Homo sapiens: one gene and its partners. Changing the gene in region 2 together with the main gene of any one other region gives a genetic interaction. Each region holds a gene or a part of one and is shown on either strand. Other genes may lie near its edges.

Region 1 (4,099 bases), on a different chromosome or scaffold from region 2:
CAAAAAAACCCCACAAAAGCAAAGAAGGTCCAGAGCCCGGAAGGCGGGAGGGGCTCTGAAGACTTTATCACACTTTACCTCCTCTGTTCCTCCCAACAGCCCAGCTCTTGGTAGGTGCTGTTGTCCATTTCACAGATGAGAACATTGAAGGGGAAGTAATTACCCTAGAGGTGGGAAGAACAGAGTGAGGGTACCCAACAGGTAGCAAACGACAGAGCTGGGGGAGGGGAACCCCTGTCCCTGCCCCTCCCCTAATCTCTGAGGGGATCAAGACAGAAGTAAACAAGCTTTGCCGTGCCCAGGACAATTGTTACTTTGTTATTCCAGGAGCGCTCTGCCTTCTCCCACCCCCAATATACCCCAGGGCTGGAGTTAGGTCCTACCCATCCCCGCGTAGCAGGCTGCCCACCCGCCCACCCCGCCTGGAAGCTTTCTGATTTCTCTGTTCGCCCCGCCAGGCGCTGTGGGGTCCGTCTCACCAGGTCTGCACGTGAGCCCCCTGCCCCCAATCCCTCCCAGTCCCGCCCGCCTCTCGCGGACCCGGAGCCCCGACGGGAGGGGGAAGGCAGTGGGTGTGTCATGCAGCTGGAAGGCTGCGGACGGGCGGCAGTGGAGGGGCAGCCCCCTGGCTTCGGGTATGGATCACTGGATGCTGCTGCTAACCAAATGTGAACCTCGGTTTTCATATTTGTGAAATAGGCTTTAAAACACCTAAATCCCAAAGCTGCCAGCCTAAGGAGCACACGTCTTTGAACGCTGGCTTCACGCTGTCATTTAAGTCATTTCGTCCTCTTGGAGCCTCGGTTTCCACGTGGGTAAAATGATCGTGAAAAAAAGCACCGAGGAGTACTTTGAGCTCGAACGGAGGCCATCCGTGTAAAGGGCCAGATTCTGTCAATGGATCGATCCCCCCGATATTGATGGAAACCCCTGAGTGCACGCCCGTGCTGGGCGCAGGGGAAACAGCGACGCACGGGACAAAACAAGCTTGCAGAACAGCAGGGGGCAGAGAGGCTGTAAACAAGCCAACGGGCTGCACTTGTAGCGGTTCTGTTGCCAATGCCATTCAGACCCCAGTCCGGGATTCCGCGCTCGGGGTGCGAGAGGCCGCTCCCGGGGAGGGGCGGGACCCGGGCGGGGCGGGAGGGGCGGGGCGCCCGGGCCTATTAGGTCCCGCGCCGGCAGCCGGGCCGCAGACACGAAGCCTCCCGGGTGGCTTACAGACGCTGCCAGCATCGCCGCCGCCAGGTGAGTGCCCCCGACCCTGCTGCCGCCCGCTGCTCCGCCCAGCTCGAGCCCGGCGGTTAGCGCCCAGGCCGCGGCCCGGGTGCCGAGCGGCTGGAAGTGTGGGGAGCCGTGCCCAGGTTTTACCGCTCCAGCAAGTCGCTGGCGGGGCGACGTCTCGGGACTCCGGCTCCGAAACGTACCCTCTCTGTCCGGGGCTCCAGGTCCCCGACGGGCGATCGTGCCAGGCGCGGCCCCTGCGGGCCTCAGTCTCCGCGCCTGTGCAATGGGGTGGTCCCTCTGCGTCTCGCCGCGACGGCTGGACGCCCCATCGCCGCCGCACAGTCCTCCAGTGCGGCTTCCGGGCACCCGGCTCCGAACTCTGGGGTCGTGCGGACCCGGCCAGACCGTAGCGCGGCAACGCCAGCCCACGGCCGCGGCCGCACAGCCCCGGTGCCCTTAAAAGAGGGAAGATGGCGTCGTGCCCGGTGCCGCCGGGACCGGCTCCCGGAGGCGCTGCGCACCTGAGGAAGGGCCGAGGAAAGGCTTCGTAACGGGACGCCCAGAAAGTCCGGAACAGGAACGTGCACACGGAGCGGCGCGCAGCCGCCCGCCCTCGCTTGCCCACGCGCCCTGCACAGGTGCGCCCCAGACTGGGCGGGGACTAGAGCCCGGCTGGGGCATGCGACCTTGTTTGGTAAATTGGAGGTGCGCCCCTGCGGGTGACCCGCGAGGGGGCCCCCCGCCTGCGGGGCGCGGTCACGACAAGGCTTGTGGGGTTCGGAGCTGGTCGTCGTCTGGGCTCTGGCCTCCTAAATGCGATCGCTTTCAAGCCCTTCATTGTCAATTTTGCTAGAATGAGCCACTCGTGGGGTAGGACGTGGTTGTTGATGTTACTGTTGTAGCTCTTACTATTGTAACATTTTTGTTGCTGTTTTAACGCAGTGTTTACTGTGGTCTGGGAGCCCGAGCTTCCCAGGGAGCATTGGTGTCAGCCTCATGTCCCCGCATTAGGAGGAGCGCAGTCTGGTGGGCACTAGCGCCGGGAAGTTCTTAACATCTGTCTGCCCCTGGGAGCAGGAGGCCTCATCTTCCAGGTGGAGAAACAGAGATTTCAGTCCCAGGAGGCACAGAAATGCCAGGGTTGTCTAGCTAGAAGCCAAGGGCCCTTTATGGAACCCAAGCCAAAACCTCTTTCCACTCTCCAGCCCTGTGGCCTCGGAAGGGCCACTCCATCTCTCTGAACCTCAGTTTGTTCTGTTCACTCTGCAAAATGTATCCCTGAGGTTTCTGGCCAGGTGAAAGCCCCTCTCAAGTTAGTAGCCTCCCTGGAGTTAAGACTCACCCCGATTTCTACTTAATTTGGGCACGCCTTTGGAATAAGTTCTCAGGAATGGCACAGTTTGGGTGTTTTTTGTTTCTTTTTGTTTTTTTTTGAAACAGAGCTTCGCTCTTGTTGCCCAGGCTGGAGTGCAATGGCGCCGTCTCGGCTAACTGCAACCTCGGCCTCCTGGGTTCAAACGGTTCTCCTGCCTCAGCCTCCTAGTAGCTGGGATTACAGGCGCCTACCACGAGGCCCAGCTAATTTTTTGTATTTTTAGTAGAGATGGGGTTTCACCATGTTGGCCAAGCTAGTCTCGAACTCCTGACCTCAGGCGATCCACCCGCCTCAGCCTCCCAAAGTGCTGGGATTACAGGTGTGACCCACCCCGCCCGGCTTGAGTGTTTAAATACTCCTGCCTCAGCCTCCCAAGGTGCTGGGATTACAGACGTGAGCCCCTATGCCTGGCCCTTTTTTTTTTTTTAATTGTCTTAAGGATGTTAAGACTAAGATTCTCACACATTTGACTCGTGCCTGTAATCCTAGCACTTTGGGAGGCTGAGGCAGGAGGATTGCTTGAGCTCAGGAGACTAGACTGGGCTAGACCAGACTGGGTAACATGGTAAAACCCTGTCTCTACCAAAAATACAAAAAATTAACCGGGCATGGTGGCATGTGCCTCTGGTCCTAGCTACGCAGGAGGCTGAGTTCAGAGGCCTACCTGAGCTTGGAGGGGTTGAGGCTGCAGTGAACCCTGATCATGCCACTGCACTCTAGCCTGGGAGACAGAGTGAGACCCTGTCTCAAAAAAAGGAGCATTAGGCTGGGCATGGTGGCTCACATTTGTAATCCTAGCACTTTGGGAGGCCGAGGGAGATGGATCACCTGAGGTCAGGAGTTGTGAGACGAGCCTGGCCAACATGGCAAAACCAGTCTCTTTTAAAAATGCAAAAATTAGCCGGTCGTGGTGGCGTGTGTCTGTAATCCCAGCTACTTGGGAGGCTGAGGCAGGAGAACTGCTTGAATCTGGGAGGCAGAGGTTGCACTGAGCGGAGATCACACCATGGCACTCCAGCCTGGGCCACATAGGGAGACTCTCTGTCAAAAGAAAATTTAAAAAAGCATCAAATGGTAGATCCCCAGTGTCTGTTACAGCTTGGGTACTCTATGGCTGGATAGAGAGGCTGCATACATGTTAGTTATTGTAAGTTTGTTTGTTTTTTTGAGACGGAGTTTCGCTCTTGTTGCCCAGGCTGGAGTGCAATGGCTGGGAATACAGGCGTGAGCCACCTCACCCGGCTCAAGATTCTTACACATTTGACTTGCCTGTAATCCCAGCACTTTGGGAGGCTAAGGCGGGAGAATTGCTTGAACCCAGGAGGCGGAGATTGCAGTGAGCAGAGATGGTGCCACTGCACTCAGCCTGGGCTAACGTGAGACTCCATCTCAAAAAAAAAAAAATTACGTCTTGTGTCACAGAGCTGCAGATAAACCAGAGACTACTCATAACCGTGTACTTTTTTTTTCCCCCATTTCTGATCCCGTCTCAACGGA
Region 2 (2,396 bases):
TGTACTGATAGGATTAAAGTGCCAGCCGTGAGACTTGGAGATCTGAACTTTTACTGGAAATGAGAGGGAGTCGTCTAAGATTGCGTTTGGGAGTTATGTTGGTCTTTTTTTTTTTTCTCCCTTCAGCACCAGCAGAACCAAAATCGTGTGTGGTGGCAGATCCTCCTCTTCCTGCACAACCTTGCTTTGAATGGAGAAGAGAACAGGAACGGGGCAGGCCCTAGGTGAGGGTGGGCTGCCCTCTTCACATGGGGCACCAGGAACACCGTCTGGAACAGGAAGGACATCGGGCAGGACTGACACTGTGTCTTGTGAAATTGTTTTTTTGTTGTTATTTTGTGTTTTAATTTTTTTTAATTTCTCTCTGAGTGTACATACAACATACTCAAGCGGGACCTTCTTTCTCTGTCAGGCCCTTGACCTGGAATGGGGGCCTTTGTCAAACACTGTTGAAGGAGAGGCTGATGTGTCTGTGATGGTGAGAATTCCCAAGGGCTCTGACAAGTAGATTCTTCGACTGAGGAATCTACCAGTTGTCGAAGATGATCCGTTAGTGATGTTCTCTGGGAAGTGGACTGTGGTTTTTCCAGAGGAACTCAGTTAAGAAATCGAGAGTGGATTAGACTCCCAGTTCCACCAAACCTATGAGCCTTCCACTGTGGATGGGGGCCGTGATCCTGATGGTCACATTGCTTTAACCCAGCAGGGCTTCGGCCAGGGGCTTTCCACTTGAGGATAGCAGCTTCACTAGGCTGGCCGGCCAGCTCCACATCTGACTGGGTTCTTACTTCTCAGCCAGTACCTGCCCCATGGGCTCAAGGATTCCTGGCCAGCTCCTGCCACCTCCAGCAGACCTCAGGGAGGGTTGAGTTTCTCTAAGGACCCCTCAAACATGTCGCAAAATGAACCAAACTTCTGGCTAGGCCTCAAAACTGACTTGGTCCCACTTGGAGGCCCCAGGATTGGTCCTGAGGTACAGAGCCACTGCCACCACTGGCGGCCTGGGACCAGCTGGGTGTCAGCCACGGATGAGCCGAATAGCCAGTCAGCATGTTGCTGCTGGCAGCCTGTGCCTTTGTCAGCTCTTCTTTCAAAAGACCCCACCGACAGACCGCATTCCACCCCCAACATCGGCACTGAGGGACATCGGGGGCAAGTTTGCAGTGGGGCCGGAAAATATGGTGGCCACCCTACCATGAGAGTCAGCCGTAGGGGACCCCAGACCCCTTGGTTTCCTTGGAAACAACATACCTCTTCCCCCTTATCCCCAGTCCTTTTTCATACCTAGTGGGATACAGAAGAAGCCAGGACAGTGGCTTTGCCAGCTAAGTGACTTTTAGAGTAACAGATAACGATTAGAGTGGGGAACCGTCAAAGCTGGGTACACATTTCCTATCTTCCTCCAGCTTCCAGCTAGGCCAGAAGGGCATGCTCTGGAACCCAGCAGGATCACAGCTGCCTGTGCACGTCTTCCCTTCTCTCCCTGCTGCGGCACTTATGGAGAGGATCTAAAGCAGCCGGTGTGGCAGCTCCGATAGCAGGCACAGGGAATCTGTTAACCAGACGCTAGAAACTAAATTATAACTTTTGCATATGTGAGAAAAGACAACATTGGTGCTAACAGTGAAGTAAGGCCCAAAGGAAAGACGGCTTCCCTGGACAAAGAAGACCTCAGGGCTACCCAAGGAAATAGGAGGAGTCTAGAGTAGACTCACAAATCTGAACAAGCCCAAGTCTTCCAGTTCTGAGGAGAGGAGGTCTTCAGTACTATTGAAGGAGACATTGATCTTCTGGATGTACAGTTGTGCAGGTTGTTCACTGCACAAGGGCACCTGCAGCTAATGGAGGCTGGAATTCAGCTTGTGTTCTGCTCACTAAGCTGTGTGCGTGCCCTGGTGTGGGGCTACTTCTCCCAAGAAGAAGGGGTGCCTTTCCTAATTTGCAAAGGTGCCATATGGGCTCACAGCACCCTGGAGGAGAAGGGCCTCAAACTGTGCATGTAAGCCTTTGTTTTGTTCTGCTCAGATATTCTGGATATTACCTCTTCTTGGTCAGAATTCTATTCTCAGGGTGTGTACCATGATTTGTCTGCTAAGAAGACGGGTTCCTGCTTTGCAGAGAAGGAGCCGGGGACCAGCTTGAAGACTGGCTCTGGGACACACTGACCATTGTGAAATTCAGCCTTCCCTGTGGGTCTCCATACCATTTTATGATGTGTATGGGACATACGTTGTTCTCCCCTCTCTGGATCAAGGTGGTGACAGGCAGCCTGCTGCCGTATGCTTCAGTGGCACACACCAAAAAACCGGGATTATTTACAGCAGCCACTATTCACCCCTTTTGGCAGACTCTCCACCTGAGTTCAGTGAGAGAGAAAATGATTTAGATCTTGGTGC
Region 3 (3,651 bases), on a different chromosome or scaffold from region 2:
ACAGGGGCGGGGGGAGTGATGGTAGCAGAGGTGGTCAGCACTCACCTTGGTGAGAAGCACCACTGGAGCCAAGGCCACAGGGATGATGGGAAGAGAGTTCCAGGCAGAGAGAAGGGCAGATGGTAAGGCCTCGAGGGCAACACCTGCTCCTGGCTAGGGTGGGCCTAGGGGAGGGGGTTTAGGAAAGGGTATTTGGAGACCTAAAGTTGAAGGTCATTCTAAGGACTCTGGCATTGCCTTTGAGTAAAAACCTGGAAAGGATTTGAGCAGAGGCAGCATGGTCAGATTTAGACATTCAGAGAGTCACCAGGGAGGTGGTGAGAAGTAGCTGATCCCTGGATTTATTTTTAAAGCAGAACTGGCAGGATCTGCTGATGGACTGGATGTGGGGTGCGAGGGAAAGAGAGGAGTCAGGATGATGCCAAGGAATTTTAAAAAAACTATTAGGCTGGGCGCGGTGGCTCACGCCTATAATCCCAGCACTTTGGTAGTTCGAGGTGGGCAGATCATGAGGTCAGGAGATAGAGACCATTCTGGCTAACACGGTGAACCCCGTCTCCACTAAAAATACAAAAAATTCTCTGGGCGTGGTGGTGGGCGCCTGTAGTCCCAGCTACTCTGGAGGCTGAGGCAGGAGAATGGCGTGAGCCCGGGAGGCGGAGCTTGCAGTGAGCAGAGATTGCACCACTGCACTCCAGCCTGGGTGACAGAGCAAGATTCCGTCTCAAAAAAAAAATTATTATTGGCCGGGCGTGGTGGCTCACACCTGTAATCCCAGCACATCGGGAGGCTGAGGCAGGCAGATCACTTGAGGTCAGGAGTTCAAGAACAGCCTGGCCAACTTGGTGAAATCCTGTCTCTACTACAAATACACAAATTAGCTGGATGTGGTGGTGGGCGCCTGTAATCCCAGCTACCTGAGAGGCTGAGGCAGGAGAATCACTTGAACCCAGGAGGTGGAGGTCGCAGTGAGCTGAAATCCTGCCACTGCACTCCAGCCTGGGTGACAGAGCAAGAGTCCGTCTCAAAAAACAAAAAATAAATAAAAATAAAATAAATTAGGCCAGGCGCGGTGGCTCACGCCTGTAATCCCAGCACTTTGGGAGGCCGAGGCGGGCGGATCACGAGGTCAGGAGATCAAGACCATCCTGGCTAACACGGTGAAACCCCGTCTCTACTAAAAATACAAAAAATTAGCCGGGCGTGGTGGTGGGTGCCTATAGTCCCAGCTACTCGGGAGGCTGAGGCAGGAGAATGGCATGAACCCGGGAGGCAGAGCTTGCAGTGAGCCGAGATGGTGCCACTGCACTCCAGCCTGGGCGACAGAGCAAGACTCCGTCTCAAAAAAAAAAATTATTATTATTATTATTATTATTATTTTATTTTATTTTTGACATGGAGTCTTGCTCTGTCGCCCAGGCTGGAGTGCAGTGGCACCATCTCAGCTCACTGCAAGCTCTGCCTCCCGGGTTCACGCCATTCTCCTGCCTCAGCCTCCAGAGTAGCTCGGACTACAGCCTCCCGCCACCATGCCCAGCTAATTTTTTTGTGTGTTTTTAGTAGAGATGGGGTTTCACCATGTTAGCCAGGATGGTCTCGATCTCCTGACCTTGTGATCCGCCCGCCTTGGCCTCCCAAAGTGCTGGGATTACAGGCGTGAGCCACCGCGCCTGGCCAAATTATTATTAATTTTAGAGACAAGGTCTTGCTATGTTGGCCAGGCTGGTCTTGAGCTCCTGGCCCCAAGTGATCCTCCCACCTTGGCCTCACAAAGTGCTGGGATTACAGGCATGAGCCACAGTGCCCAGCCAACACCAAGGAATCTGGCTTGAGCACCCGGTAGGATGAAGTTGCTTTTAATGGAGAAGAAACACTGAAGGGTGAGGGAGGATCTGGAGGCTACCCTAGAGGGTGGGATAGAGGGGGATTTTTTTTTTTTTTTTTTTTTTGAGATAGAGTCTTACTCTGTCACCCAGGCTGGAGTGCAGTGGCACGATCTCGGCTCACTGCAACTTCCACCTCCTGGGTTCATGCCATTCTCCTGCCTGAGCCTCCCCAGTAGCTGGGATTACAGGCATGCACCATGCCCAGCTAATTTTTGTGTTTTTAGTGGAGACGGGGGTTTCACCATGTTGGCCAGGCTGGTCTCGAATTCCTGACCTCGTGATCCACCCGCCTCAGCCTCCCAAAATGCTGGGATTACAGGCATGAGCCACCGCGTCTGGCCGCTAGAGGTGGCTTTTAAGCATCTGGTGGGATTTTTAGCAGGGTGCTAGTGGGAGCTGGCAGGGACTTGGAGTCTGAACCAGAGTTGTGCTTGTCTCAGTCCAGTTAGGGGTAGGGGCTTCAGGTGTGTGCAAAGGAAGGAATGGTAGATGTGGGGTCCAAGCTGGCTGAGCTTCAGGGAAGGGAGCAAGCCCTGGGAAGCCGCAGCATCGTTGGAGTTGGGGTCCCGGGGGCATGATCCACACAGGTTGGGTCAGCTGGTGGGAAGCTTGGGATGGAGTTATTTGATGGTGACAAGGCCTAGGTTATGTCCCTGGGAATGAGTCTGAGGGGAGAGTGGGACAAGATCATGGTAGAAGGAGTAGCAAGGTACAGAAAGGAGACAGGGTGCTGGTGGAGTGGCAGAGGACAGGAGTAACATTCTGCACAGGCCAGGGACGACACCTCCCCCCAGCCCCAGCTGCAGACCCGTAGGAAAGAGGGCTGCGGGAGAAGACAGCTGCCAGGTGAGGACAGAGCTGGATTTCTTAACCTTTTGATTTAGTTTTCAGTGTCTCCAAAAGCAAGTGGTTTCCCAGAAAAGATCAGCAAGTGCCAGTGCCCCGCCAGAGCCACGGGGCCTCTGCCCTCTCTACCTGCGCAGAGCAACTCACACTTGGTTCGGTCACTCCTCATAGTCCCTGCCACCAGGCCCCCCTGCTGGATGGCTGAGGTGTCCCCAGGGCAGGGACTGCAGCCACCTTGTGCTGTGACAGCCCACACAGCCCAGTGTCTGAAACAGGTGTGGACAGTGGAGAGGCAGAAAGAAGCAGCCCAGTGCTAGCCCCTGGGCCAGACTGCAGGGTTCAAACGTGGCTCTACCCTTCCTAGCAGGTTGAGCTTGAGCAGGTTAATTAACTCCATCTGCCTGAGTTTCCTCATCTGTAAACGGGAATAGAACTAGTCCCACCTCGCAGGGCTGTGGCGAGGACCTGATGAGTTAATATAGGAAAAGTGCTTGGAAACAGTGCCTGGCGCAGAGGAGGGGCTAAGTGTTTGCGGCTCTTATTATTAGAACTGCCATTGTTATTATTTATGTATATATATATTTATATATAAATATATATATATAATTTTTTTTTCCAAGATGGAGCCTCACTCTGTCGCCCAGGCTGGAGTGCAGTGGTGCAATCTCGCCTCGCAGCAACCTCTACCTCCCAGGTTCAAGTGATTTTCTTGCCTTTATGTACATTCTTGGCTTTATATATTTATAAAGCCTCAAATTTCTGGGCTCCAGCCATCCTCCCACCTCAGCTTCCTAAGTAGCTGGGACTACAGGCGCACGCCACCATGCCTGGCTAATTTTTTTATTTTAATTTTTGTAGAGACAAGGGTCTTTCTGTGTTGCTCAGGCTGGTCTCGAACTCCTGGCCTCAAGCAGTCCTT

The links.
Region 1: changes in BMF (region 2) and BIK together harm fitness more than expected from each alone (negative genetic interaction), as found in Homo sapiens cells (one large-scale study listed by BioGRID).
Region 3: changes in BMF (region 2) and BAD together harm fitness more than expected from each alone (negative genetic interaction), as found in Homo sapiens cells (one large-scale study listed by BioGRID).

What each region holds. Positions count from the first base shown.
Region 1 is NC_000022.11:43,109,556-43,113,654, forward strand, and holds the start of BIK (bcl-2-interacting killer), read left to right. Parts: upstream 1-1,194; 5' UTR 1,195-1,248; intron 1,249-4,099.
Region 2 is NC_000015.10:40,089,619-40,092,014, reverse strand, and holds part of BMF (bcl-2-modifying factor), read left to right. Parts: intron 1-126; coding exon 127-228; 3' UTR 229-2,396. UniProt on the Homo sapiens protein: May play a role in apoptosis. Isoform 1 seems to be the main initiator.
Region 3 is NC_000011.10:64,278,061-64,281,711, reverse strand, and holds part of BAD (bcl2-associated agonist of cell death), read left to right. Parts: intron 1-3,651. UniProt on the Homo sapiens protein: Promotes cell death. Successfully competes for the binding to Bcl-X(L), Bcl-2 and Bcl-W, thereby affecting the level of heterodimerization of these proteins with BAX. Can reverse the death repressor activity of Bcl-X(L), but not that of Bcl-2.